Linked DNA regions of Homo sapiens. The protein of the gene in region 1 interacts with the protein of each later gene in a pairwise test. Each region holds a gene or a part of one and is shown in the gene's direction. Other genes may lie near its edges.

Region 1 (7,021 bases):
ACAGATATCAAGTAAACAGCATATAGTTGAGTCTTGCTTCTTTTGTCCAACAGGACAATCTAACCTTTCAATTAGTAGTTAGACCACTTATATTTAACGTAATTATTGAAATATATGTCACAGTGCATTTGAAGGAGAGAAATCACACAGCAATTTGAATACAGGAAATTTAATATAAACATTATTAACAAGGCACAGAGAATTAACTACTGAGGACAAAACGCTAAGGTAAAGAGATCCCTAGAAAATACATGTAGTAGTCAGTACTTCTAAGGCTGAGGCAGAATAGCCACAGAAGGAACAAATTTGGAATAGGTGCCCCCACCCCTTTCCCAAGCTAAGATTCAGATGATGTTGAAGGAGGTGTGGCTGTAGCCCACTGGATGGTGGAAAAGTTTGCTCAAGTGTGGTAAGCTGAGGCTGGCAAGTAGGACACTGCCTACTAGGATGCCAACAAAATTATTTGGAGGCCTTTTGGCCCAGAAGGCTAAAGATATTTACTATCTAGACCTTTACAGAAAAAGTGTACCAACTCCTAGACTACATGAGTGGACTGGAATGGAAAGTTTTTAAGGCAAACCTTTATCGGAAAATGCATATCAGAATTTAGTGTCTGTATATTACTGGAAGATGCTTGGATTATTCAGCCCAATACGGATGCAGGGTGTAAGAAAATACTAAGACGGGCCAGGCGTGGTGGCTCACGCCTGTAATCCCAGCACTTTGGGAAGCCAAGGCAAGCAGATCACTTTAGGCCAGGAGTTTGAGACCAGCCTGACCAACACAGTGAAACCCCGCCTCTACCAAAAAATACAAAAATTAGCCAGGCTTGGTGGTGCACGCCTGTATTCCTAGCTACTTGGGAGGCTGAGGCAGGAGAATTACCTGAACTCAGGAGGCGGAGGTTGTAGTGAGCCAAGATTGCGCCACTGCGCTCCAGCCTGAGCAACAGAGTAAGACCCTGTCTCAAAAACTAAACAAATAAAAATTTAAAAGAGAAAGTATTAAGATGTTGAATTTTGTGTGTTGGCCCTAGTATATACTTCCTGAGGTTGTCTGGTGTGCTCTCCCACATCAACAGACCACTTTATGAGAAGTTTTAGCTTTTAGGCCCAACTTCCACCTCATACCTTTGTCAACTGCATGTTCTACTTTTACATTTACGAGACTGTTAAAACCCACACTGTTCTACAACCAGATCTTGAGTGTTTTGTCCGTAGCTTGTCTCTAAAAAATTGAAACGACATTACATAGTTATAACTAAGTAAATATTGTTTCAGAAGAGTTAAGTAGTATGCTAGGATTATAAATCATACTTGATGGGTCCAGTGTCACAACTGCTTGTCTGTTCAAAGGGAGAAATTTTTCTAACCTCACAGTCATATGGAATCTTTTCTTGTATTCCATCAAGTGCTTAAAGTCAGGCCCTGCTTTTGTTTTTATCTTATTTGGACAGTGCCTTTTTTTGTATTGCTTTTTTATTGTCCTAGAGTTTATAATGGCCTTTCCCCCACTCTTGTCAAAATAACAATATTCCTTCATCATGGCTTCGGGTTTTTCTGAAAAAACACAGAAAAGTCTTTTGAAACACACTTTCATGGAATCCTTCTCTAAAACCTAGACCTCTTCCATCCTCCTGTTCCAATCTGGATTTGTCTACTCTTATGCTGGGACTTACTTTCACCCCATCTCTAGGATTGAATCCACTATTTTGTGTAGCCTGCATTTCTTTCTCGCTTATTTTAGGAACTATTTAATACATCCTCAAGTATTTTCCAAGGAAGGGTGCAAAAGGGGGTAATTTGTGCGTATCTAAATATAAATTTAGTCTCTTTTACTTTATTCATCCTCTGACTGGGTATGGAAATCTAAAGTAACTTTCTTCATATCTTTGATGACGCTGCTTCATTGTCTTCAGGCCTACAGTCTTGATGAAAAATTTGATTCTGGTGTAATTCTCTTTTCAGGTGACCATTTTTGCTCTCTGGAACTTGTGGAACTTTTTCTTTGGTATTTTGGGATTTAATTAGAATGTGCTTAAGTGTGGGTCTTTTAATGGCCTTGGTACTTGTTGGATCCTTATAATCTGGAGACTCATATACTACCTTAGTTTTGGGAAATTTTTTTCCATTAATTTCTTCCATAATTTCCTTTCGCTTCTTATCTTTATTTTTTCTTTCTGGGATGCCTCTTAACTGGATTTTGGATTTCTTGGATTATGCCTGTCTCTTCTTTTTTCCTTTCTTTGTCTTTTTGCTTTATGTTCTGGGAAATTTCCTTTAACTTTTTCATCACTATCATTAGGTTGTTTGGCCCTAACTATGAGGTATTTCTTTTGGACCAGGGGTGAAAATTACTAAAATATGAAATGTGCTGTGATCCATGAAAGCTTGGGAACCTCTGCTCTACAAAGCATGCCCCACCTATAACCAACTTCGTAGTCTTCTTACTCAAAGAAGAGGTACCTTGGAAATAGATCTATTTACTCAATTAAAACACCATACATCAGTTATTCATTCTTAAATATAAGTGGACAAGCAAGGAAGGATCACCCAACATGAGGAAGAAAAACAAACAAACTATTCTTTGGTTTATTTGTTTTTTTAAATTTCAGTAATCATGTCTTTAGTCTCTAAAAGCTCTTTCTTGTTCTGAGTGATCCTTTATCATAGCAGTCTATGGGGTAAATATAATAATCTCAGATCTCTAGGTATACTGGTGAGAGGGTGTTTTTTTCCTCTCTTTTCCCTGAATTATATGTTTCCAGGGGTGGAGGGAGTCTCTCTGTCTCTCTGATATGCTCTTATTCTTCCTCATGGTGGGTGATCCTTCCTTGCTTGTCCACTTATATTTAAGAAGGAGTAACTGGTGTATGGTGTTTTAATTGAGGAAATAGATCTATTTCCAATGTACCTCTTCTTTGAGTAAGAAGACTACGAAGTTGGTTATAGGTGGGGCATGCTTTGTAGAGCAGAGGTTCCCAAGCTTTCATGGATCACAGCACATTTCATATTTTAGTAATTTTCACCCCTGGTCCAAAAGAAATACCTCATAGTTAGGGCCAAACAACCTAATGATAGCAGATTGCATGGTATCTGAAAGATGTTACTGTGTTTCCTTCGAATTTAAAATACTCCACATGCCTCTCTGAGTTGGCTGTGGTGCTCTAAGTTCAGATGGTATCCTGAACTGGTGAATTTCACACACGGTTTGGGAACCATGACTTAGGGTGAATGGATTGGGAGTGAACAGGCCACAGATTCTTTAAATTTCAGAATGAGGATTGCTTTGTCTGGGCACCAGCAGCTACACTACAGCCTTAGATCTTCCATTAGCTTTGTGCTATTTCTAGAAAAACCTTGGAATCTTTTTGCCTCAGTATCTGTACTCTCCTTATCTATACTCTGTGTTCATAGAGTGGAGAAGGCACTAGTTTCCCCATTTTCTGCCCCTCTTCTTACTTCTGCCTTTGTTTCCCTGAGACCTCATCCTTCTTTTCTCCCAAGGGTTCTGATGGGCAGATAAGCTTAGCCTCCATCCTAGTCCTCCATAATGTATTTTTTGGCTGTGGCTGTCACTGTTCTTTTTCATTTGAATTTGTTTTCTAACTTTCAGATCTGTATAAATCTCTCATCAAGTGATGAGCCTACCCTCACCTTTTCCTGGTGTGGACTTATTCCTTTTTTGTACTCTTAATCTTTAATGTAATTTGGGGAGGGATGGGAAGCCAACATGTGTACATTCTGCCGTCAGGAACTGGAAACTACATTGTCTCTTGATTTCGCATCATAACGAGTGAAGTGGATACTATTAATGTCCTCTTTTTACAGCTGTGATAACTGAGCAGCTGGGACTCAAACCCAAGTCTGTTACCACTAAGACATGTGCTGTTTTTATTGTCGGCTAGGAAGAGGTGTTAAGTACACAGGTGTTAAATTCGCCAATTCAGGATGTCATCTGAAACAATTACTTCATTTTTAAAAAGAGATTGAAGGTTTTATGTGCTAGGAAAGCTTTCAGAATTGGTCAGGAATTTAAGATATTGATCAGCCTCTGCCTAAGGCCTTTTCTTAGTTACTGGATCATTTTGAGCAATGATTTTCAAACTTTATTTTTTTAGTCAAGTCTTCCTTTAAATTAAATCTGTGCAGAAATCCAGTATGTTTACAGATAGAATAGGTGATGCTGCTCTGGTTGAAGTTAGATGGGATGCTCACAGTTCACTCCTTAGCTCTCCTTGGTGGCCCCTAAGACTTCTCCTTTGAGCAGTTTTAAAAACCTTTCATCTAAAATAAATAAATAAATAATTTTAAAAAACAAATAGGAAAAGAAAAGAAAACCTTTGATCTAAGGTTGCAAACCGTTTGTCCAGTGGCTGGAAAACATTTTAAGTAGTTTAAGAATAGGTTGGTACCAAAATAAGATTAAATGTAAATTATTTTAAAATTACTTGGGTAGGTGAAATGTTTACTCTTGTTCTCCATTTCCTACTTGCAGATTATTGCGCTATTTGAGCTCCTTCATAGTGCTGGTTTCTAAATAAGGAAATAAGCAAAAAATCAACATGCTAACTTCTTAATCTATTGAATGGGTAATTAAATTAGTCCAAAATTGCTAAAACATGTGTAGTGAAAAGTCTGCCTCCCATGCTGCCCCCCTTTCTCCACTATCTCTCCCGTGCATAGAGGACCCCAGAGATAACCACTATTATTAGTTTCTTATGTACTCTTCTAGACACAAGAAAATTTGAATATATACTATCTCCCTATCCTTTTACACAATAGGTAAGTTGACTCTATTTAATAGAAATTGAATAAAAGGAGTATTTAGAAATATATGCAAAATCAGTAAAACATTCAGTTTTATATAAATATGTGACTTTTTCATTTCTTTTAACAGGAAAAAATTAAAGAGTACATCTAAATATATTTATCAAACATTATTTTTGAATGGTGAAAACAGTGACATTAAGATTTGTGCTCTAGGAGAAGAATGGAGCTTACACAAAATATATTTATGTCAAGTAAGTATTTTTTCTATTTGAGTAACAGGGTAGTCACTGAAACTCTTAAGTCATGTTCTTCCTCATTGCACTTCACAGTAATCTTTTGCATGAACACCATAGTGGTTAAATCCTCTCATTTGATCAGTCTGTAAGAAAAATGGCAAACATTGTTAGTGAAAACTAAGTTTGGTCTAGAAAGAGATTTTGATATTTCAGTATCAGACTAGCCTAATACTACGTATTTGTCATTACTTCATAAAATGCTTTTTTCGGTGCCTTCTGTTGATAAAAGGGGAAAAGTTGGGGAAAAAATATTTAACATTAAAGTTAAGATTGTAGTGTTTATTTTGCTTATGGTTATTTAAATTGGATAAACTCATCTGAAATGTTGCTTTGTAGTTCACATTGAGTGTGAATAGAAAGTTCTCTCCTGAAAAATGCAGGTAAAGACAACACCAAAAAGTATATAGACTAAGTAGATTTCTGTACTGAAAATATTACTACCTGCCACCCCACTTTAAAAATTCAGAACTTTCATAGCTGACGTGGTGTTGGGCACCTGTAATCCCAGCTACTCAGGAGGCTGAGGCAGGAGAATTGCTTGAACCTGGGAGATGGAGGTTGCAGTGAGCTGAGATCGTACCACTGCATTCCAGCCTGGGCAACAGAGCGAGACTCTGTCTCAAAAAAAAAAAAAAAAAAAAAAAAAAAATCGGAGCTTTCAAAATAGAATACAATGTTGCTCTAATGGCCCAAATATTTTATTCATTTTCTTTCATCAAATCTATAAGCTAGGTATTGTTTGAGGCACTAGAAATAAAACAACAGTTTTTATCCTTTGGAACTTACATTTTTCCTCTTTACCATTTGAGAATAATTACTGGTAAGACAGCATAGTATAAAATTTTTCAGTAAAAGTATTTGAAAATGAATTGCCTTCTCTAACATTTTAATCATGTTTTAAAATGTGTTTTTGAAACAAATTTATTTTGGCTTGAAGTATGTTGCCCAGATACTATATCAGAATATTGCTTTTAACTTCAGGGTATGATTCATGTTGTTTCTTTTTAATATCTGAAAGCAGTTTTGTGAACTTGAGGGTAAGAATACCTCTGTTAAAACTTTACCCCTCGTGGAAGATGTATTATAATTCAAGCCACATGCTAAAATATAAGCCCCCTGAGGACAGAAACAATATCGATTTTGTTTATTGCTATATTCACAGTGCCTTCTACATACTAAGTACTCAGTAACATTTTTAAATAAATTAGTTAATATTTGATCCATTTCAAAGTAATTCTAATTATGAGGAGTGCTATCTGGCAGATACCTAAAGACTTCATTCTGTACCTTTCCAAGAATTCAGGTCCATTCTGGACATTTCTCATTAAACTAAATTTTGGATTTTCCCTGGTTTCTTTGGCGATCATCCTGTTTTTGCTGACTTGGGACTGGTTTGGTCCTTTATAGCCATTCAGGTGTACAGTAAAGATTCAACAGTTTGAGTAAAAAGCTAACCAGGTTCAAATAATATACATGAATTCAATTTAGATAGTAATATAAGAATTTTAGTTTTTTGTCAAAAATAGTACTAAACCAAAAGTATATTTTGATACACCTAATAGTGTCCTTATCTTAATTTCTTTTCTCCTGTGGACATATTTGGCAGTTCTTTTTCTGTTGAAGTAATAGAATGGATGAGTTTAGTTAATGGATAGAATAGTTGCTTAGAATTAGAAATGGGCAAATAATTTGGAAGACACAGAAAGTACTTGATAATCGTTGACTTTTTTTTTTGTTTAAGTCTGGCTACTTTTCTAGTATGTTCAGTGGTTCTTGGAAAGAATCCAGCATGAATATTATTGAACTGGAGATTCCTGACCAGAACATTGATGTAGAAGGTAACTACCACAATAATTACTATTATGCAACAATCGTAAAAACATAATCTTATTCTTCTGGTAGAAGATAAATAATTCCTTCCAGCCTTGTAGTCTAGAAAACTCCTTTTATCAC
Region 2 (7,021 bases), on another chromosome or scaffold:
ATCCTTTCCTTGCTTTCTATCCCTGCGTAGGGGACATTGGGGTCCCCTTACCTGATGTCCTTTGAGGGCATCTAAAGTAATGAATGCTCTGTCTCCACTGCTGGCAGCATCTGACAGCAACGATGCTGTCGTAAAATTTAATAAAGACAGAGTGCGTGCAAGGAGGAGCCTCACATTTCTCCTTCAGTCTGCGGGGCGTCTGGGCTGCAAGGTGGTGTCAGAGGAGAACCTGGCATACTCGTGGGCATTCATCCTGGGCACACTGGCTGAGCAGGGCCGCTCCCCTCAGGCCCTGGGCATTCACCCTGGGCACACTGGCTGAGCAGGGCCGCTCCCCTCAGGCCCTGGGCATTCACCCTGGGCACACTGGCTGAGCAGGGCCGCTCCCCTCAGGCCCTGGGCATTCACCCTGGGCACACTGGCTGAGCAGGGCCGCTCCCCTCAGGCCCTGGGCATTCACCCTGGGCACACTGGCTGAGTAAGGCCGTGCCCCTCAGGCCCCGGAAGTGGGTTGGCCGTGGCTTCGACAGTTCTCTGTGGCTGATGGCAGTGCGGCCGCGATGCCCTGCTGTGCCATGCTTGCTAGTCATGTTCTTTTCCTCCTAGATCTCCATTTGCCAGGAGATGCCCAGCCTGGAGGTGATCACGCTCAGGTACCTCGCTCCTGCTGTCATGCTCAGCCTGGGGCCTGGAAGCCGGGGCAGAGCCTCACGTCCCTCCAGTGGGACCCAGCACTGTGACATAACCTGGAAACCTCCAACACAGACTGAGGGCGGCTTCCAGAAGGGGAGGGGCCGGGACAGCGAGAGCTGGGCCTACCCTGTGGCCCCCATGTTCAGCCCTCCTTCCTCAGAGCCTCACCTGGGCCTCCTGATGGCTCCTGTCCCCTGCCTGCCCTGCTGTACGCCTGCCCACCCTTGGCCTGTGTGCTCCGATAAGCCATTGCTGTGTTCACTGGGCCAGTCGGTGGTGGAGCCCTCCTAAGGATTCACGGTGGCCCGCCCTGGCCGCCCCCACGGTGGCCACATCTGCCCTGGGACCCCCAGAGTCCTGGCCTCTTCTGCCCCCCAGTGCCACCACTGCCTACCAGTTTCTCTGCACCCCATGACCTGTGCCCGTCTTCTGGGGTCACTGCCCTCCCAGCAGACTAAGGGAAGCTTGAATGAACAAATGTTACTGGACTTTCAGGCAGTTGGGGTGTATTTGGGGGCTCTGGGGAAGAGAAGAGCTCCCTTTATCCCTGAATTCCCTCCTGCCTACTGTGGGACCCACGGAGGGAGCAGACGCTCATGGCTCACCACTGCCCACCAGACGCTGGATGGGCGCCTTCTGTGGGTTTCCGCATTTAAAAGCTCACAAGGGTTTAAACCCTGTGGGGAAGGCCCACCCCTCTGGCAGCTCAGAAGTCTCTAGGGCTTGCCCTCTGAGAGTGGGTATTGCAGGCCCCTGGTCCCTGACTGTGACCTACCTTCTTGATCTCACAGGCAGCCACGGGGTAGGCCAGCCCCTGCCCATCCTCCGTAATGCCCTCTGAGGTTGGCATTGCCATGTTGATGCCCGTGCCCAGCCTGCTGCCCGCCATGGGCTGAGGCCAGTCCATCTGGTGTTCAGGCATCCCCAGCGCGGGCACCAGCCTGTCCTGCCCGAGCCTTGCTGAATGAATGAAATGGGCTTGGAGGCATGCTCATGGGTCAAATCTCAGCCCTCCCATCTATTGGCTGGCTAACCTTGGGCGAGGCATGGCCCTCTCTGTGCCTCAGTTTCCTTTCTGTAACATGGAGGTATTACAAGTGCCCACCCCACAGGGAGATGAGGAGGAGATGGAGCCCGAGTCCAGAGGTTGAGCAGGGGTGCGCGTGCCCGCCCAGAGGTTGAGCGGGGGGGGGGGGGGGGTGCGCGTGCCCGCCCAGAGGTTGAGGGGGGGTGCGCGTGCCTGCCGCGGGGCTCGTTTCACTAGTCAGGCGACACAGTGAGGCTGGGATTTCAGGCCTGCCTCCGAAAGGCTTACCTGACAGGGAAACGTGGAGCTTGTGGTTCCCACGGTGGCAGGAAGCTTGGGGCGGGGCTGTGGATCCAGCCCTATCCCTGCCGCTCACTGAGTCACCCAGGGGCCACAGGGCCTCCGAGCATCAGGCCGCTCGTGTGTGGGGCCATTTCTGTCACATCTCGGGAGGGACAGGACCCCAGGGGTGTTGACCGAGCTCAGGTGCGTGGTGCCTGCACGCCTGACTGCACTGGAGCGGAGCAGGAAGCCTCGAGGCCGCGGACGCGGTCGGTACATCACGCTGCTGCCTGTGCCTGAGGCAGACCCCATCCTGGAAAGAGTCCCACAGCCGGAGTTTTGCTCTTGGTAAAATGGGGCGGCCTCATAGCTAGGAGCTGCATGAGACCTGGGAAACCCCGAGTGAAGGGATGGCATGGGGAGGGGGGCTCAGGACGGCAGGCTGCCCATGGGGGCCTGGTGACCGCCCTTCTGAGGCGCCTGCCGGACGCGAGTGCAGCCCTCCAGGCAGGGGGCCCTGGCTCCGCGCCTTTGAGGGCCTGCGGGAGCGGCTCCGCGTGTTCGCTTGTGGAGGGGACGGACCCCACGCTGCAGGGTAAAGCCTGCAGGTCCCCGCTCCAGGCCTGCTGTTTCTCTTCTCTGACGCGTCCACGTTCTGTAGAATGGAAATGAGGCCCATCCCCAGTGTTGCCGCCCTCAAGTGGGGGTTTGGAAGGTCCGTGCTCACTCCCATGTCACGTGGAGCTGGCTCCTAGTTTTTGCCATGAGTTTTTCTGGCCGCTCCCTGCTTTGGGGCAACATGATATGTCCCCTGAGAGGCCTTAATTTTCCTCACCTGTGAAGGAGGGCCACATCCCCCACCTCCCGCACTCTAGCGCCCTGAGGAGCTGATGTGGAGCGTCGGGCCAAGGGGCTGTTGCTGGTGGGGTCCACCCCAGTCCGCCTTTGAGTTCAGGGCCTGGCCTTCCTACAGCTCTCTCCTCGGCCCAGGTCCTGCTGCACGTGACTTGTGACATCCGATTTAGGCTTCTCAGGAGAGGGCAGGGACACAGGTCCCATGAGTGCCTTTTACTGGGGGTGGGGATTGAGAGGTGGCCCTGGGGGCCCTGGCCACGTCCCTCGCTGACTGTGCTGGTCTCCGTGCAGTGTCAACAGCATCTCCACCCTGGAGCCTGTGAGCCGGTGCCAGCGCCTGAGTGAGCTGTACCTGCGGAGGAACCGCATCCCCAGCCTGGCTGAGCTCTTCTACCTGAAGGGGCTGCCGCGTCTGCGGGTGCTGTGGCTGGCCGAGAACCCGTGCTGCGGCACCAGCCCCCACCGCTACCGCATGACCGTGCTGCGCACCCTGCCGCGCCTACAGAAGCTGGACAACCAGGGTAGGTGGCCGCAGCGGAGTCACCGGCCCTCCCAAAACAATCCCTGGAAGGGGATGTCCCCAGCCCTCTTTTCTCTTCTCCTTTTCTGCAAATACCTGGTCTGGCGGGACATAGATGTGTCCTGTGAAGTCTCCTCCAGAGGCTGTTCCCCTGGCTTCTGTGTCTCCTCTTGATCCCGCCACCCGAATGCAGCAGCGCAGCGTAGGGTCCCTCCTGGGACTGACAGTTTGGGTATCCCCCAACGACCGCAGGACCTGGTAGCAAAGCAAAAGGGTTCCTTCTTTTGCTTCTGTGAGTAGCAGCCCTGCTCTGACCATCGCCATGCGCCATGGCGAGCGGGGGCGTCAGTATCTGGCAAGCAGCATCGCACTGGTCCACAGGGACTGGGCAGGCTCCACGGGCCACTGTGAACCTAGGGTGGCGGTGCCATCGCGCCCCTGCCGTGGGGAGGGGCCGTCCCAGCACCGCAGTGCCTGCTGCTGCGCTCCACCTATTGGAGGCACTCGTGCCTCCTCTAGCCAGCGCCAGCACCGACACAGTTTTCCAGGCTGTGGTTTCATGCTGTTTGTTCATCCTTGGCATTCTCAGCACACTAGTGTCTCATCCTTGTCAGGTATACAGACACCACTATTTTCTCCCAGACAATTTTATTGATATTAATAATATAAACTTCAGGGAAATTGATATATGAGAGAAATGGAATAAATTCAATATGGTCTGTTCCTTTTTCTATTGTGTCTTAGTTGAGGTTTTGAGGAGTATTTGCTTCTGGCCAAGGCTGGTGTTGAGATTCCTGAGCAGCCCTCCACCATCTGTTGTGTGTCAGCCTGTGCCAGGCTGGGGATGGGACAGTGAGGAACCGGCTGCTACTCTGGGAGTTGTCCCTGGAGGTGGATACACGTGCATGCATTTCACAAGCAGACTGTGCCTGAAGCCACAGTGAGGACGGGAGCTGCAGTGCATGTGGCCTGCACGTGGGTGAGGCCACTCATGCTGTCTTCTGTCTTTCATCCCAAAGCTGTGACGGAGGAGGAGCTGTCCCGTGCACTGAGTGAGGGAGAGGAGATCACTGCGGCCCCAGAGAGAGAGGGCACAGGCCACGGCGGCCCCAAGCTATGCTGCACACTGAGCTCCCTCAGCTCCGCTGCTGAGACTGGCCGGGACCCGCTGGACAGCGAGGAGGAGGCAACGTGAGGCTGGAGGGCAGCGGGGACTCCGCAGCCCATCCCTGTCCCCCAGGGTCCTCCCACGGGGAGTGAATGGGGCTTCCCGTGAGCTGCGTCTCTGGGAAGTGAGGGACAGGGATTATCCGGGGGGAGTGTCTGTTCTCATCCATATTCTCTGGGAGTGACTCAGTGCCCAGGTAGTGATTTCAGTGGCAGGTCCATGTTTTGCCCAACAGCGGATGTGCCAGGGAGCAGGAGAGGGGGTGAGCCAGGCCCCGTGCCCTGGCACAGAGAAGGCTCACAGCACCAGAGCTCGTGAGGTGCAGGGAGCCCCTGGTGGGGGGGGTGGCCTAGGGCCACAGTGACTGGAATGGTTTGTGGGCACGGCCATCAGTGCCCGTATGGCCTTGGGCCTGGGGGCCGTGGAGGGGCCACAGGGCTGACTCTGCAGTGAGACGCCGGCGCCTCCCAGGGCAGTTGGCAGCGGGTCACGAACGCATTTGACAGAAGCTGGGCACTTCTCTCCTGCTTGGCAGATCACACCCGCTGCTGGTGCCTGTGGTGGGGGCATCGGGATGTGATCTCTGTTAGGCATCTGCCATCCGGCACAGGGCCTGACCCCATGGTCAGGAGCTCTCCCCCGGCATTTGTGTGTTCGGGTGCCCCCCACCCTGCCCCTGAAGCCCTGGGTGGAAGGTGTTACAGCTGGGGAGCCCCAGGGTGCCGGGAGGGCGCCCCACAGGTGAAGTAAGTGCCGGGCTCTCCAGGAGCTGCCATCTGTAGCCCCTGACCTCCCAGGAGTTGCCTCCCTTCTCTTGCCCCCGTGTGCCAGGTGGGATTTGTATGAGCCCCTCCTTTGCTTGGATGCGACCCGCAGACAGGGTTTGCAGAGGCCCCCCCGGTGCCACGAGCCCCCTGACCCTCACACGCCTTTGTCTCCCTCTCAGCAGCGGCGCCCAGGATGAACGTGGCCTGAAGCCGCCTTCCCGGGGCCAGTTTCCTTCCCTCTCAGCCAGGGATGCCTCGAGCAGCCACAGGGGCAGGGTGAGTGGCGGGCCGCTAGGGGCCGCGGCTGCCTCTGCCCACTGCACCCACTGCACAGAAACCGTGGGGAGGGAGCATGGAGCCTCACAGGGCCCCGTGGGGAGGGAGCATGGAGCCTCACAGGGCCTTGAAGAGCTGTGCCCCAGGGGGAGCTGCGTGTGCGGGTCTGTGAATGCGCACACACGTGTAACACGTGCCCCGCACGGAGCCGTCCTGGCCCCTCAGCCTCTCCTGCTGTCCTGGTCTGTGGAATGTGGGCCCGGGCCCTGCTGGGCTGAGGGCAACAGGAGTCACGTGGAAGAGGTGCCACACACGCGTCCACAGGCGGGGCTCCTCTGCTCAGATTCTCCGAGTGTGCCGGTCAGTCACTTGGACGGCCCACACCCCCGGGACCAGTCGCTCCGTGGTGGGGCACCGCTGGCCAGGCCCCAGCCCTTGTGGAGGGAAGCAGCCTCGCCGTGCCGGGTGGGCTTAGTCCGCACCCCTCTGCCCTCAGAACGTCCTGACTGCCATCCTGCTGCTGCTGCGGGAGCTGGATGCAGAGGGGCTGGAGGCCGTGCAGCAGACTGTGGGCAGCCGGCTGCAGGCCCTGCGTGGGGAAGAGGTGCAGGAGCACGCCGAGTGACCGCAGGACCTGAACGCCGCTCCAGCCTCCACGGGGACCCCAGCGTCTTCCCCAGCCCCCGGGAGCTGGAGGGTGGCTGCCATGGCCGCAGCCCCGGCCCCACACAAAAGCCTCCCCGGTTTGCCACATCGGCCGAGGGCAGGAGTGGGTGTTAGGTACTGGCTAACCGGGGCGGTGGAGATGCCTGTCTACACCAGTCCTGTCCCCAGGACTCCCCTTCTGTGGTCTGGAGGTTCTAGGCTGGCCTGGGCTCTTAAAGGGAGGATTTTGCAGGCTGTCCTCCCTAATAAAAGATTTTCCCAAGGTTGATCTGGAGGTGACGTTTCCCAAGGCATGGTTGTGACAGTCTTCCTGAAAGCAAGGGCCGTTTCTCCACAGAATGAGGAGGTCTTCACGGATGGCTTTGCCGATTCCAGCCCTTGGTCCTTGGATAGATTTCTGTTGGGCAAGGGAGACTTCGAGAATGCTGGCACCCATAGCGACATCTGCCCTGAGCTGCTCAGCAGGCAGGCAGCAGCCTCCCGCACCCATGGGAGAGAGTTTTGTTTTCTTGGCCGGGCTGGGCAGGTGCGCCTTCCTTTCTCTCTCCTGTGAAGAACTGCAGGAGGGCCCTCAGCTGTGAGGTTGTGGATGAACAGGCCTGTTCGCCCTGGGGTCCGGGCCTGGCACAGGAAGCAGCTAGACTAGGGGAGTCCTTGGAGCATCTGAGAGGGGTTTTCTTTCCTCTGGGAAGAGTCGCAAGTCTTATGAGGATGCCACAATCTGGGCAGTGACCCGTGGCCCTGGGGACCTTCCTAGTGCCCCCCAA
Region 3 (7,021 bases), on another chromosome or scaffold:
CCGGGTGGGGAACGTGGAGGGCAGTGAAGGTGTGGTGGATGTGGCTGCATTGGACGGGTTGGGTGTGGAGATGCCTGAGGGCCATAGGTGGGTGGCTGGACGTGGTGAGGGTATGGAGCCTGACAGACACCCCGCTGGAGTCAGATGGAAACCTGGGAGGGGTCCCTGTGCAGCTGGCTTGGAGGGGATTTGGTCTGAGCATGCAGGGCAGGGGTGCAGGTGCAAACCGGGGCCCCAGGGAACAGCCCGGGCGAGGTCGGGAGGGGCCTGTGGTGTGATCGCCGGACCAGCAGAGGTGGGGAAAGACGTGGCAGGAACCCTGGGGCGGCCAAGTGCGGGGCATCAGCTATGCCTGGGGACGGGGTGCGTGTCCATGGCCCGATGCCTGCAGCAAGCGGACACTGAGGCAGAGAGGGGTGTGAGAGTCAGGGGCTGGGGGCACTGCTAGCCCAAAGATTGGTTGGGTGTAGCAGGTGGTTGGGTGTGAAGGACTTGGGGAGGGGGAGCAGTATTTAAGGGCTGGTGGAACAGGGAGTTGACTGCTGTATCTGGAAGGCCATCCAAAGGCCAGGGGTAAACTGAGGCTCTGTGAAGCTGCCTGACTTGTGAGATGTCTGCCCCGAGCCCACCCCATAGCCCCTTCGTCCTCCCCTCCCACACCTGCCCCGTGGAGAATCCCTGCCTAGCTCATTGTCTGCCTCCCCTCTGGACCGCAGGCTCCCGGGGCAGGGGCAGGGTTTGTCTTACTCCTGGCTGTGAGGTCTCAGACAGGTTGCTTGCTCTGAGAGGTGAGGGTAGGGACCTCAGGGTGCCCAGAAGGGGCAGGGCTGGGTGAGGGGGCACAGTGAGCTAGGGGTGCAGGTCTCAGAATAGCAAGGACCTAAGGCTGCTCAGTGAGGCCTGGGGTGTGGCTGGAGAAGGGGTGAGGACTCGGGGCTGAGGTGGCCACGTGGGTGGATGGATGACGCCCTCACCTCTTCCCGAGGGCTGTGGGTACACCAGGAGCCCCTGCAGGGAACAGTCGACTTCAGGGGCTGCTGTGCAGCCCATTGTGCCTGCCCTAGGAGCCCAGGATGGCATAGGAGTCCCCAGGAAGTTCACCACCTCCCTGGGGAGGACAGGTCTGTGTGGGAAGCAGCCTGGGACCTGTAGCTATAGAGTGCTAGAAGTGGGGCAGCCACGGAAGGCTGCCTGGAGGAGGTGGAAGGAGGCCTGAGCACTGTCCCAGAGAGCGCTCCCGGAGGCAGACCCACGTGGGCAGCTGTGGCACTTTGCCTCAGGGCTTCCCTCTTTGCTTGTTACTCTACTTCCTCTTGTGGTGACTGACTCTTGGGAAGACCCGCCCTGCCCTTCTCTGAGGTTCTCAAAAACGTAAGCGACGCTTTATTTTTATTTGTTTTTAAAAATATAGCCCTGGGCAGGAATCCAAGAGTGCTTCCTGGAGGCTTGCTGGGTGTGTGCCCGCAGTGCCACATGCGGTTTACTCACGGGGCCCAGACAGAAGATGCCTCTGCTCGGGGCTGGGGGACAGTGGTGGCCCCAGGGGGACTGGGAGCCTCCTGCCTGCCCTCTACTCCCCTCGCTTGGGTTTGGGTCGGGAATATCACAAGAACGCGGGCTTTTGCCCAAGGTCCCACAGCACATCTGGGCAGAGTCAGGGTTCCAGGCCCTCTCCCACACCTCAAGTTTCCTTCATGACACCCGGGACTTCTGCCTGTCCCGTCCCCATCTCACAGCAACACAATCCAAAAGATGTTGGTCCCAGATAGCCCCTGGGCTGTGCACCCATTGCAAGGAAAGAACTGCTGGCTGCTGACCCCACTCTGACCCAGACAACCGGAAGTGCAGCCCCTGCCTTGGGGAGCTCCGAGCCATCCCTGTTGGAGGCCCCCACACTACCCTCCTGCCTTTGCACAGCTTTAGTTCAGGTGAATTGTTGGCAGGTGGCTCGGAAGAGTGGGTCATAGTGGGTCTCTGTTTCCTGAGCATGTGGGGCTCTGCATCCTGGGGTCCTACCCTCCAGGAGACCCCATTCTGGGGGAAGAAAATAGAGCCTCAAGAATTGTCTGGGTTTCTGGAAGGCTTCCTGGAGGAAGGGGAACTTGAGCAGGCCAGGACCTTGCCAGGTTTCCCGTGCTGCATGCAGCCTCATTGGCCATGGTGGCAGACACTGCCCGGGCATGGGACATTGCCACCAAACATCTCTCTGGCCCAGAGAAGTGACCCAGGGTCCCAGGGCCACACAGCCATTTTGGGGAAAGCAGGTCTGGTCTTGGGCATGGCACTGCTGACTCTGGGCCTCAGCCATCCCAACCTAGCACTGTGGAGGAGCAGGAGTGAGGGCCCCAGTCACCTGTGCCACCCAGGGCCAGCTCTGTGATAGCCTGGGTGCTGATGGGTGCTCTTTGTACCTGGGTCCTTTAAACCGCCCCCAACACACTGGCCAGGTTCTGGGGTCAAAGACTCCTCCAGCCACCACCTGGGATTTACCTGTGTGAGGGACACTGGTGGAGTCTGAGGAACCGCCCAGGCCAGACTGGCTCAGGGTCAGAGTCCCTGACTCTGGGGCGCCATGGTCTTCAGTGACGCCCGGGAGGCTGGGTGTGTGTGAGTGTGTGTGTGTGTGTGTGTGTGTGTGTGTGTGCGCGCGCGCGCGCGCGCCGGTACTCGCGTGTTAGTGCGGCACGCCCCGGCTGGCCTGCGGGCCTTAGTTTCCCCCGCTCAGCGCCGCGGCCCGGCCCGCCGCCGCCATGTCGTTGCAGCGCGCTGCAGGAGCAGAAGGGCGAGCTGCGCAAGCGGCTGTCCTACACCACACACAAGCTCGAGAAGCTCGAGACCGAGTTCGACTCCACGCGCCACTACCTGGAGATCGAGCTGCGGCGCGCGCAGGAGGAACTGGAGAAGGTCACGGAGAAGCTGCGCAGGTGAGGGGCGGGGCGAGGGCCGGGGCGGGGCGAGGGCCGGGGCGGGGCGAGGGCCGGGGCGGGGCGAGGGCCGGGGCGGGGCGAGGGCCGGGGCGGGGCGAGGGCCGGGGCGGGGCGAGGGCCGGGGCGGGGCGAGGGCCGGGGCGGGGCGAGGGCCGGGGTGGGGCAGGGCCCGAGGCCCGGAAAGCCGCACGCGGTGCTCCCCTCTCACCCTGGCTGTTGACTCCACTCAGATGGGGAGTCCAGAGGTTCTGGTAGGGGAAGCTCTTCCTCCAAAGTCACACTATGGAGCAGCTGAGCCAGGATTTGAACCCAGCAGATCTCCAGACCCAGACTGGTCCACCCGGGGCCCAGCCATGGTTCCCTGGGTCCTGATGGGAAAAGCTGTGTCTAGCCCGGAGATGAACCAGTTTAGGGACCCTTCCCTTGAGCGCGTACGGGCTAATGAAGTGTCGATCCAGTTGTGCTGGACTCCCTCAAACACCAAACTTTTCTAAAAGCAGTTTTCTTGTGCACATTTAAAATGGATGTTTTTCTGAAATGTAATATGCACTTTCTCATCTTCTTAAACAGAAAATGCAAGAAGCATGCAACCTTTGCTGTTGGCTTGATTTGTTTTAGGTATTTGTAGAGAATCGGCTGGTGTTGCCCCTAGGGAGGACTTGCCATAGGGAGAGGGTTTGTCCCTCTCCGAACAGCCCCAGCTCCTGAGTGTTTTGAATGTCACCCTCCATTCATGTGGAAACCAAGCTTGGGCAGTGCAGTCAGACCTCAGTTAAAATCTGGGCCCTGCCAGTTACTGCTTTAAGTAATTAAAGTTTCACCTCAGTTTCCCTATTGGCAAGACAGGGGCCATAACACGACACATAGGTTGTCTGAGGCTGGACACCATCCCCAAGCCCCCTCCCACCAGCAATGGAATCTCCAAGCACCTGATTCCCACCTGACACTCAGCTCCACTCCTCCTACCCGGCAGAACCGAGTCTTGTTCACTGTGATGTCTCCAGCCTCACCCTGGGGCCCATCACATAGTTAGTGTTAAGTTTCTTCCCTGCTCATTTGCATTTGAACTGTCAACCCCATAACAGGTTTGTAAGAATTGTGGGTCAAATGTGAGTAAACTGGCTCCGCGTGTGGATGGGACAGAGTCTCTTGTGAATAACAAGCCTTCCCTTCCCATCTTCAGGGGGTCCCGGGGTGGAGGGGGAAATACAGTCCTGGGCCCTGGCCTAGGAAAGGCTTCTACAAAAGTTTGCTTTAATGGGATGTTCTCTGCTGTGTGCAGAGGGGCACACATTCCACCAGGGTGAAGCTGGTGGGGTGAGCTCAGGAGGTCCAAATTCAGCCCCACCCTGCTCAGCAGGCTGTGCGGCCATAAGGGTCGTGGGAGGGACAGGCCTTGCATGGCAGTGACCCCCTTGCCTCCTGCACCAGGATTCAGAGCAACTACATGGCACTGCAGAGGATCAACCAGGAGCTGGAGGACAAGCTGTACCGCATGGTGAGGCCGCCACGCAGCGCCCACTCCCCCACCCCACACCTCCTTCCCGGGGGGAGCCACCCAGCTGACACCCCTGGGCCACTCAGGAGCTGGGACACAGGTCTTGCTGGTCCCACCCCTTTCTCCATGGAACATGTGGAGCAGGGTGTGTGCTCTCAGGCTAAGGAAGTACTTGGGTCCAGGGCTGCCCTGTGCTGCCTGAGTGGCGGGTGCGAGCACTCCAGCCTGGGGGTGTGTAAGAGGGGCTGTGGACGGAGGACATACACTGGGAACGGGCCCCCCAGCTCAGCCTGCCAGTCCAAGGACCTGGGCCCAGGAGGATAGGGAGGCCCGAATTCAGGCCCTGGGTGAGCCAGAGGCAGGTTTGAGCCCCAGCTCCGCCTCTCATGGGGACCCCTCTGTGGGGACCCTCACACCACCTGCAGGTGACCTCAGTGGGGTCGCCATTTTCTCTGTGAACACACTGCTGGGACATGTCGAAGAGGGGCAGGGTGTGGGTTTCTGGTGCCACTCCCTCACTAGGATGAAGAGGTTTCCTTTCTTTCTACTTTGGTGACCAGCTCATTTTGGTTTTGAAAGCAACAACCTGCCCACCTTTGTGGTGCTATCAGAGACGGGGGGTGGCAGGCCTGGGGGCTGGGCCTGGCTCTGCCTGGGTGCCTGGACACCGGCCCTTTCCTGAGCCTCAGTTTCCCAATCTGTCCAGTGAGGTGGGCTGGGCTCTATGCCAGGCACAAGTCATCTGTCCTCCGTCCCCACTCCCAGCTCCTGAGGCAGGACGCTGTCACCTCTGTGTTGCACATGAGAAACTGAGGCTCAGAGGCAGTGACGTCCCCAAGGCTGTGTGGCTTGGCAGTGTTGGACCCAGGAATTGAACCAGGGTCTGTCTGTGCTCATAAACCCCACACCCTTGGCCCTCTAAGTGTCTTGTCACTCATGGCTACAAGGGACAAACCAGGGGGTGCAATCGAGCGACTGGGTTGGCTCACCAGGAGCCAACCACGGGCCTCCTCCTCCCACTGTCCCACCCCCAGGGCCAGCACTATGAGGAGGAGAAGCGTGCGCTGAGCCACGAGATTGTTGCCCTCAACAGCCATCTGCTAGAAGCCAAGGTGACCATCGACAAGCTGTCAGAGGACAACGTGAGTGCCGCACACACTTGGCCCATGGAAGACTGCCGGTGGGCCTAGGCGAGGGCTTCCCAGGATGCACTGGGAGTCACATTCTGACTCTGAAGGGTCCTGAGCTCAGCTGCTTTGGCCCCAGCCTCAAGGGGCTGGTGCAGGGTACAGGTGGATGGACAGGCTGGTCAGGGCTTTGAGAAGGACCTGCTGCAGTTGGGGAAAGATGGTGCTGTCTCATTGAGGACGCCAAGGGTGTCCTTAAACAGACCCTCTGCTGTAAGGACTTGAGCTAGGGGATGCGGGGCCATATTATCCCATTCAAGGCAAGGCTTCCTGATCCCAAGGTGGGGTCATGGCCACTCAGGACTCCTGCCCTTGGCCAGTCCCAGTGTTGCATCACAGCCGTGTGGCTGCCCATGGGGCCTAATTTCAGGGACCCTGTGAGATGGGCCCAGTTGCCCTCCACAGACCCTGGACAGCTGCCTCTGCATTCACGAATTAGCTTCTACCTTGCCAGACCCTACTAGGCTCCAAGATGATGGTGTGAACAACACAGGCAAAAAAAAAAACAAAAAAAAAAACACCTCTGGCCACGTGGAGTTCACATCTGAGTGGGGCAAACTCTGGGGTATGTTAGAAGTGTGAAATGCTATAGAGAAACAGAAAGCGAAGAACGGTACCAGGGAGTCGCCAGCTGCAGGGCCTGCAGATTTCAAGAGGGTGCTTCTGGAAGGGGCTGCTGTGCCAGGACCTGAGGGAGTGAAGGAGCCAGCCATGCAGACATCCGTGGGAGAAGCATTGCTTCCAGGCAGAAGCAACCGTGGTGTGCAGCTGTACCTGGTTAACTCGGAGGATCCCAAAGGGGCCAAGGAGCGCCCAGCGGGAGGGGGAGCCAGGGTCTGAGGTCAGAAAGACCATAGGAGGCAATGTTGTAGAGGCTCCTCCCAGAAACCTGGGCTTTATTCTGAGTGCAGTGGGGAGCCATGGAGGGTTCTGAAAACAGAGGAGCAACGTGATTGCACGTGCAGCTTCCCAGGGCTCACGTGGCTGCCATGCTGGAAACAGGCTGTAGGGACGAGGACAGGAGCAGGAAGATCAGGAGGAGGCCAGGACCATAGTCCAAAAGATGATGGTGGCTCAGATGACGGTGGAACTGGGCAGAGGGCTGGGATTCTGGTTGTGTTTTGAAAATAGAATCAACAGGACTAACCAAGATTTAGGATGTGGGTTGTTAGAAGAAGAGCTGAGTCCAACCCAGCTACAGGATTCAGAGCCCAAACAAAAGGAGTTGCCTGCCATTTCCTGGCTGGGGACAGCTGGGGAGGGACAGGAGCTGGGTGGGAGATGCACAGGACCCCTTGGAGCGGAGATGTCACCAGGGCAGCAGGAGGCCCGGGTCTGGAGTTGAGCGTGAAGGCCGGCATGCCGGCGGAGACTGCCCAGGCAGCATGCAGATGAGAAGCAGGGAGGCC
Region 4 (8,021 bases), on another chromosome or scaffold:
CATAGAACAGCGACTCAGGGATCCAGTGGGCCAACTCTCTTGCCATTGGAGGGATTACTGTGAAATGCTGTGAGTACATATATTTTTCACAACAGACAAGAGCTCAGCTGCTGCTTCCTATTATGGGCAAATCCACAGTCTCCCAGGTGTTACAGCTTCGTCATGCCTGCTTCTTCATTCTTTATTCAAAGAAGTCTTTCATCATATTTTAGTGAGTCAGGGTCTTGCTGGAGAATCACACTGTTGCTGCCACTGTGTCAGGGATCCTCAAGACCACCCTCACTTCCAGTAATTGCCTATGAGGACCCAATGTATAGTTGTGCTCGTGGCTAAGATTTCTTACAGCAAAAGAATACTGAGCTAAATCAGTAATGGGGAAAGTCCACTGGGCAAAGTCCGGCGGGAACCAGCAAAAGCTTCTAAGAGTCCCTTCCCAATGGAGTCACACAATTTGTCTCTCCAGCAATGAATCGTGACAACATGTGTAAAATGTTGTCTACCAGGGAAGCTCATTAGAAACTCAGTGCCCCAGGTTTTTACTGGGGACTGGTCACATAGGCACTCTCTGCCTAACAGGCAACAACATTTCAGATTCCCAGAAGGGAAGCTGGTGTTCAGCATAGAACATATTGCTTGAACAGTTTCGGAGGAGTAAACCACTCTTATCAGATGGAGAATGGTGGGAAACCTCCTGAAATCAAGTTCAGAGATGCCAGGCAAGGGCCAGTCTTGCAAGCTGGCCTTTCTAAGGATAGTAGTTTCAGACCTGCTATATTACCTCTTTTTTGCACAGAACTCAACTACAAAGCTTTAAAATGCATAATCAAATCAGACAGAACCAATGGAAAAAAGTCAGCAACATATAGATGAACTGAATGGCACCATGGACTAATTGGATCTAAGTGACATGTAAAGAAAGCTCCTCATAACGACAGCAGACCGTGTATTCCCTCATGGGTGGTTTTGAGGGGTTCATGGCTCCAGTGGATGAAGTACCTGCCGACATGGTGGAAACAGCAAGAGAACAAGGGTGGAGCGTGAAGAGGTGACTCAACTGCTGCCATCTCATGATAAAACTTTAACCTGTAAGGAGTTGCTTCTTATGGATGAATAAAGAGAGTAGTTTCTTGCAATGAAATCTACTCCCGGTGAAGATGCTGTGAACACTGTGGAAATGACAGCAAAGGATGAGTTGATTAGGTAATGGCAGGATTTGAGAGATCTGACTCCAATTTATAAAGGAGTTCTACTGTAGGTAAAATGCTATCAAGCAGCATTGCCTGTTATGGAGAAATCTTTCGTGAAAGGAAGAGTACATCAATGGAGCAAATTTCACTGTTGTCTTACTTTAAGAAATTGCCACAGCCCTCCATGTAGTATTAGCTTGTTAAAAAGTAAATAAAAAAAGAAAATAAATTGCCACAGCCACCCAACTTTCAGCAACCAGCACCCTGATCAGTCAGCAGCCATGTACATCCAGGCAAGACTCTCTACCAGCCCAAAAGTTACAACGCACTGAAGGCTCAGATGATCTTTAGCATCTTTTAGCAATACAGTATTTTCCAATTAAGTTATGTACATTTTTTGACATAATACTATTGCACAGTTAACAGATTGTAGTGTAGTATAAACATCACTTTTATTTTATTTTATTATCATTTTTAAAATTTTTTATTTCAATAGGTTTTTGGGGGAACAGGTGGTATTTGGTTACATGAGTAAGTTCTTTAGTGGTGATCTGTGAGATTTTGATGCACCCATCACCTGAGCAGTATATACTGAAACCAATTTGTAGTCTTTCATCCCTCACCCCCCTCCCACCCTTTCCCCTGAGTCCTCAAAGTCCATTGTATCATTCTTATGCCTTTGCATCCACATAGCTTAGTTCCCACTTATGAGTGAGAACATACTATAAACATCACTCTTATATGCACTAGGAAATAAAAAAATGTGTGAGACTTGCTTTATTGTGGTGTTCTGGAACAGTACATGCAATATCTATGATTTATGCCTGCATAAATTTCTGAAGGGGACATGATTTAATATGTAAAAGTCCACCATCTGGCACCTCAAATTCATGTTCTCTCACATCTAAAATACATTCATCTCATCTCAACATCCTCAAAACTCTTAATTCTTTTCAGCATCAACTCTAAATCCCAAATCTCATTCAAATGTCATCAAAATCAGGAAAGGGTGAGAGTCAGAGTATGTTGTATTCTGGGGCAAAATTATTTTCATCTGTGAACTTGTGAAACCAGACAAGATGTTATCTGCTTCCAAAACAGCATGAAGGTGCAGGCATAGTAGAAACATTCCTATTCCAAAATGGAGAAGATGGAAGGAGAAAAGGAGTCATGGGGTCCAAGCAAGGTTTCAGACTTTAAGAGATTTTAAGGCTTCAGAATGGTCCTCTTTGGCTTGATGATGTGTCCTCTGGGCCTAGTAGGGTGGCAGCTCTGCCCTCTTGGCCCTGAATGTTAGCCCTGCTCCCTCACCCCTGGGCAGAAGCCCTGTTTTCTGAAATTGAGGAGGTGGCTCTGCCATCTGGAGCTCAGGAAGAGGCGTCTGGATTCCTGTTCCCCAGGTCATTGCTGTCTGGGCCTATAGAGGCAGTGGCAGCTTGCCAGCCTCTGCATCTGTAGCTCTCCCCTCAAAGTCACTCTTCCTTTATTTTGTCCCATTTCTGTCCCTTTCATTTCAGGCTGGCTGTGCTTCTTTTGGTATAAAATCCTCAAAAACATGTTGGCCTCTGATGCAATTCATGGCATCCATGCCAACAGACCCTGAATCCTCCCTAGATCTTTCCTGGATAAATGCATCTCCTTCCCTGCATTCTGCTGAGATGGTTGACTGGATCCATGACTCACATAGCTCATATCCTTAGCAATCAGTTGTCCTGCTACACCCTTGGCCCTATTTCCAGAGCTTGCTATCTGGTTAGGCTGAGAATCTTCTAAATAATCAAGGGCTGATTCCTTTTTGCTCAGCAATTCTGTTGTTGTTTTATTTCTCCTCCCTTACATTTTGCAACCAACAGCGAGGAGAAACCAGGCCACAACTTCAATACTTTGCTTAGAAATGTTCTTAGCTACATATACAATTTCATCACTTACAAGTTCTACTCTGCATCTAAGAGAATGCATTCTAGCCAAATTCTCTGCTACTTTCTTACAGGGATTGTGTGTCCACATGTTTCCAACACCGTGTTCCCCATTCCTGTCTGAGAGCTCACCTTCAACATTCATATTTCTAGGAATATTCTGTTCATGATGATTGATGTATTCTCTAAGATGACAGAAACTTTCTCTATAGTTATATAAACACCCACACAATGCTAGAAACTCTCCTCCATTTGAATGACCTCCCATAATGATTCATTTAGAGGAGAGAAGCGATCTGCTGGGAACTCTTAGAGCTTCTAAAACCCAGTCTACCTGTGCTTGCCCTGGCATTCTCTGCCGCCCTTCTGCATACAATGCTCCTAACTAAAGCCAGCCCCTCACCTCAGCTCAGGATCCCATGCCTCCCACCTTTTCAGGAGCTTTGCTCCTGCAATGATCATTCCTCTCTCCTGAACCACCAACTCTTCCCTCTAAATGGGATCATTCTCCAAGCTAAGGGGGGAACTCCCCTTCTTCCCCCATGTCCTCCTATAGCTACTAACACATTTATCTGCTGCCTTTCAAAGCGAAACTGCATGAACTTATACAACCCACTTCATTGGAGTCATTTTTTCAAAATTATATGGAAAGGAAAATGAACGAGAAAAACCAAAACGATTCTGAACTATAACTTTGGGGAAATCACACTACCTAATTTCAAGAGTCATGTTAATTCTATAGTAATCCAGGGAATGTGGTACTGGGGAAAAATCAACAGATCAGAATGGAGTCCAGCAATAGGTTCACAGACATGATAAACTCATTTTCAAAAAAGGTGCAAAGGCAATGGAGAAATATTATCTTCTTGAGAAATTGTGTTGTTTTCTCCCTTGCTTCTTGGCCACGACATTCATTGTTCTTTACTCCCCTGGGTCCGTTCCCCGTGTTTCTCCTTTGCAGTTCAACTGCTCTTCTGTTTAACTGTCTGTCTGCCCCACCACAGTGTGGTAGCCTCCATGGGACATACCACGTGTGGTTCCTTGGTCTTCACATTTCCAGCATCCCAGATATTTCCTGCAACATGGCAGACACCCATGCATATATAAATGAGAAAGAAGTATGTATGAATATATATAATAAAATAATTTATTTCTGTCACAAAAGGTCTGAGACACATCCTCCACTCATGGTGACATGGGACTGTCCCCAGTGTTTCTGGATGCATGAGAATGGTAGGGCAAGAGAGAGAACGAAGCCTCTTAGTCCCTTTCCTTCTACTACAAACACCTTAGGGATGCGAGCCTGGGGAGAGAGGGAAAACCCCGGGTGGCCTTGCATGTGCCTGACTCAGTGTGCACGTCCCTTGCTGCCCAAGTCCCTTGTCCATGTGCCTTGCTGTCCGCCTTCTGTCCCTGCAGAGCTGTGCAAGGAGACATCATGACTTCCTTCTGTGCTGCTGACTAGGAGTCAGCCAGTAAGTCCGAAGATCAGTCTTCCCAGAGTTGAAGTGGGAGAGACTGTGAGGAGGAGCCCGCGGCGCGGTCTATGGCCTCCGACGGGGAGGTCCTTGAGGTTCCTGTCCTTCTCCTAACAGGTGGTGACACAGCCATGGCCTTGCTGTCGTGGGGGTCCCAGACAGGGGAGGAAGGAGGGCCATAGAGGGGAGGAGGACCTAGTGAACATGGAGTGAGTTTTGAAGGGGGAAACTATTTGTGGTATTTGAGTCCCGGAGGCATATGAAACCGCCCACAGAAGACACATTCCGAAGTCTTCAGTGGGAACCTGGGAGAGGGTAGAGAACTGCGCGGCGCGGCATGGGGTGGGGCTAGGAGAGGCGCCACAGCCCACTAGGCAGGCACCGACCTCACTGCGCATGTCCACTGGGTGTCTTCCCCTCGGCCCCTTTTCCCACGTGGTGAATGCCCTGGAGTTGTGAGGGTGTGAGGGTCGCGTTCCTGCTGTCTGGACTTTTTCTGTCCCACTGAGACGCAGCTGGTAGGTCCGCAGGCCAGTCCTCCCAAGGGTTGAAGTGTGAGTGCGTGTGAGGAGGAGCCAGTGGCTGTCCGGAGCGTGGGAAAGCATAGCCCGTGGCCTCAGAGGCCGAAGGGTCTCAAGGTGATCGTCCTTCTCCTCGTGAGGTGGCACTGCCATGGGCCTTGTTGTGGTGAAGTCAGAATGAGGGAAGAAGGTGGGCCGCGTAGTTGAGAGGGGTCAGGTGAAAATGGGGCGAGTGCTGGGGGTGCTGGGGCAGGTATCCGAGTCCCTGGAACCCTCGACCGAGGACGGATTCCAGACTCCTCCGTGTCGACCCGGGAAGGAGCAGGGTGGGCATTAAGGAAGGGAACTGGGAACGCTGCGGGTTGGTGACTGTGGCCCTGAGGTCTGTAAAGCGCCTGGCAGAGGTGTACAGTGAGGAGGGCCCAGAGCTGTGTGGCAACTTCTCAACTCCACTGTGGAGGTTTGAATGGGCGGGGCTCTGCATTCCAACAAAACTTGATTTTAGGGGGGAAATGGGCCCAGCAAATGGGTGTGTGACAAAAGCCGTGGTCACTGCAGTTTTAATTCTCTGGCTGTATTTTCCCAAATGTCTCCACGGAGGAGAGTTCAGTTGTGAAACCAAACCTCATCGGAAATATCCTGTCTTTTGCCAGGAGCCTTAAGAAATTGCTCAGCTAGCTTGACCAACTTAATGGCTTCCCAAGCATTCAGAAGGCACACATACTTACACTTGCCCTGAGACTTAGTTCGAAAGTATTTACAAACTTTTAAAAAATGACAAGTTAATATTTGGTCATGGAAGTGGTCAAATATAGCTGTCTTTTCAAGTGCATTTACCAATTCACAGTATTCTGTTTGCAGTGTGAAATATGATTTGGCGAGGAAGATCAACATATAGGCCTAGGCCGAGGAGAAGTGTACCACCTCCTGAGCTGATTGGGCCTATGCTGGTGAGTGCCTTAACCTTTGATGTTTTCTATTAGCAGAAAGTTATTTTTGTAACTTGTTGTTGTTGCAAAACTATGTTTTGTAATTGTTGTTGAACCAGTATAGATATACCAATAAAGGTCTCCCATGCTGAGAAAAATAATCATGGCATCTCATGAAGGAAAGACTAGTCCAAGAGGATTAAGTTCTTCTGTTGTCTGGATGGATGATCTTGTGTTCCCCAGATTTTGCCCATGATTTCCTTCTCATGCTTATTTGCAAAAGATTACACACATTCATCCCAGCTTAGATTAAAACAGCTTCCAAAGCCCTTGAGGGCAACTGTCTTAGAGTAACCTCTCTGTGGGAAGAGTAACTTTATGAAAAATAAGTATGTGGAATCGTGTTGGAGAAATGTCTTTAGACTTATGATCAGAAATATCTATGTATTCTGTATATTTGTATTATTGAAATGTATCGATAACAAAACTTTTTATCTGCACACACACACACACACACACACACCCCTGGTTCCAGGAGCCCGGTGATGAGGAGCCTCAGCAAGAGGAACCACCAACTGAAAGTCGGGATCCTGCACCTGGTCAGGAGAGAGAAGAAGATCAGGGTGCAGCTGAGACTCAAGGTGCTGGGAAGGGAAAGAAAGAATGTCTATGGGGAGGGGAGGAGGCCTATGTGTGCATCATGCCTTATGCCATGACCAGTAACAGGAGGAAAGAAAACATTAGGAAAGGATCTCAAACATTTGCTGAGAGTTGGCTGGAAAAGTGAAGAGTATAGTTTGCAGCTTCATGGATATAATGAATCTTCTCTTACCTTTGAAATATATTTCGTATGCTTGAAAATACAGTCCTTGCTAAATCAGATGAAACTGTTTAATTTGATGTACAAAAATATACATTATTTCACTAGTTTACTTTGATCTTCTTAGAATGTTGTTGTCTGATCTTCTCAGCCAAGGTGTCCACAGTATTGTATGCACCCTTTAATAGCATGTAGAATGCCAAGTCACCCTACCTGAATACACTGAATAAAGCCCATTTGCATAAGGATGTTAGCCCCATTTTATAAATAAGAAAACTGAGGCTCTGAAATGGAGGCTTACCAAGAACAGTTGAGTCATGGAGAAGGAATTCATATTTCATTCCAAGGTTTGTGTTCTCCCTACCATTCACATTAGAAAACGTGAATGATTTTGCTTGAAATGTTAATACTCAAATGTGTCTGTACTGTAAGTACTTCAGTATTGGCTCAGGACAAAACAAAGTTCAGTGAAGCAGGATAGCAACGCCAGAAAAGAGCTCAATGAATGACAGCCACTCTTTCCTTTGCTTTGTATTTTTGAAAGTATGTTTGGTAAAATCTGGATAATTCAGGACATTGGCATACAGGTAGCTATATTAGTATGATTTTAAGGGGCTTTTAAAGAGTTGTTTATATACTTTTATAATTAGAAAACTCGAAGTACGATAAGATTATCATGAAACAGAAATTATTTCCTCAACAGAGAGCATTTTGAAGTTAAACATTGACAGAATTTGGGTCATGGGTTACTTTAGCAATTCACTGTTAAGGGGTTTCCAGAATATGACTGTCAACAATGCCCATTAATTTTTTTTTCACTCAAGTTTCTGTACTCTTGTGGAAGACAGCGATTTTGCTGTTATATTCGGTATTTTTTTGTGAATGGGATTCATTTATGGAAAGTTACATATAGGGCCTTTGGACCTAAGTTTGTTTAATTTTAACCAAAAAATTTTCAAGTTACCTCAACAGGTGATGAGTGTCAGGACTGTAAGATTTGTCATAGGCTCACCAATATATTCATCTAATCTTTCAGAAAATTACATTTAAGTTATTATTAAAATGCTATCCATTGGGCAGTCTTTAGGTTTCCTAGATAGCTGACACTCACTGTTTATAGTACACAATGGTAAAGTATAGGAAATGTAAGTGTGGTCTGATTTTTCCTCA

What was found.
Region 2: the proteins of GMCL1 (region 1) and CFAP410 interact in binary tests that used the Homo sapiens proteins (3 or more experiments, as listed by UniProt).
Region 3: the proteins of GMCL1 (region 1) and BEGAIN interact in binary tests that used the Homo sapiens proteins (3 or more experiments, as listed by UniProt).
Region 4: the proteins of GMCL1 (region 1) and XAGE3 interact in binary tests that used the Homo sapiens proteins (3 or more experiments, as listed by UniProt).

What each region holds. Positions count from the first base shown.
Region 1 is NC_000002.12:69,832,648-69,839,668, forward strand, and holds part of GMCL1 (germ cell-less protein-like 1), read left to right. Parts: intron 1-4,899; coding exon 4,900-5,023; intron 5,024-6,809; coding exon 6,810-6,906; intron 6,907-7,021. UniProt on the Homo sapiens protein: Possible function in spermatogenesis. Enhances the degradation of MDM2 and increases the amount of p53 probably by modulating the nucleocytoplasmic transport.
Region 2 is NC_000021.9:44,329,390-44,336,410, reverse strand, and holds part of CFAP410 (nuclear encoded mitochondrial protein C21orf2), read left to right. Parts: intron 1-606; coding exon 607-653; exon of another isoform or gene 654-3,148; coding exon 3,149-3,378; intron 3,379-4,396; coding exon 4,397-4,568; intron 4,569-5,491; coding exon 5,492-5,588; coding exon of another isoform or gene 5,589-5,948; intron 5,949-6,084; coding exon 6,085-6,213; 3' UTR 6,214-7,021. UniProt on the Homo sapiens protein: Plays a role in cilia formation and/or maintenance. Plays a role in the regulation of cell morphology and cytoskeletal organization. Involved in DNA damage repair.
Region 3 is NC_000014.9:100,542,404-100,549,424, reverse strand, and holds part of BEGAIN (brain-enriched guanylate kinase-associated protein), read left to right. Parts: intron 1-1,297; exon of another isoform or gene 1,298-1,928; intron 1,929-2,762; coding exon 2,763-2,924; intron 2,925-3,157; exon of another isoform or gene 3,158-3,517; intron 3,518-4,358; coding exon 4,359-4,425; intron 4,426-5,459; coding exon 5,460-5,567; intron 5,568-6,481; exon of another isoform or gene 6,482-7,021. UniProt on the Homo sapiens protein: May sustain the structure of the postsynaptic density (PSD).
Region 4 is NC_000023.11:52,865,084-52,873,104, reverse strand, and holds the start of XAGE3 (X antigen family member 3), read left to right. Parts: upstream 1-5,021; 5' UTR 5,022-5,099; exon of another isoform or gene 5,100-5,292; intron 5,293-5,803; exon of another isoform or gene 5,804-5,855; intron 5,856-5,949; exon of another isoform or gene 5,950-5,963; 5' UTR 5,964-5,971; coding exon 5,972-6,052; intron 6,053-6,566; coding exon 6,567-6,672; intron 6,673-8,021.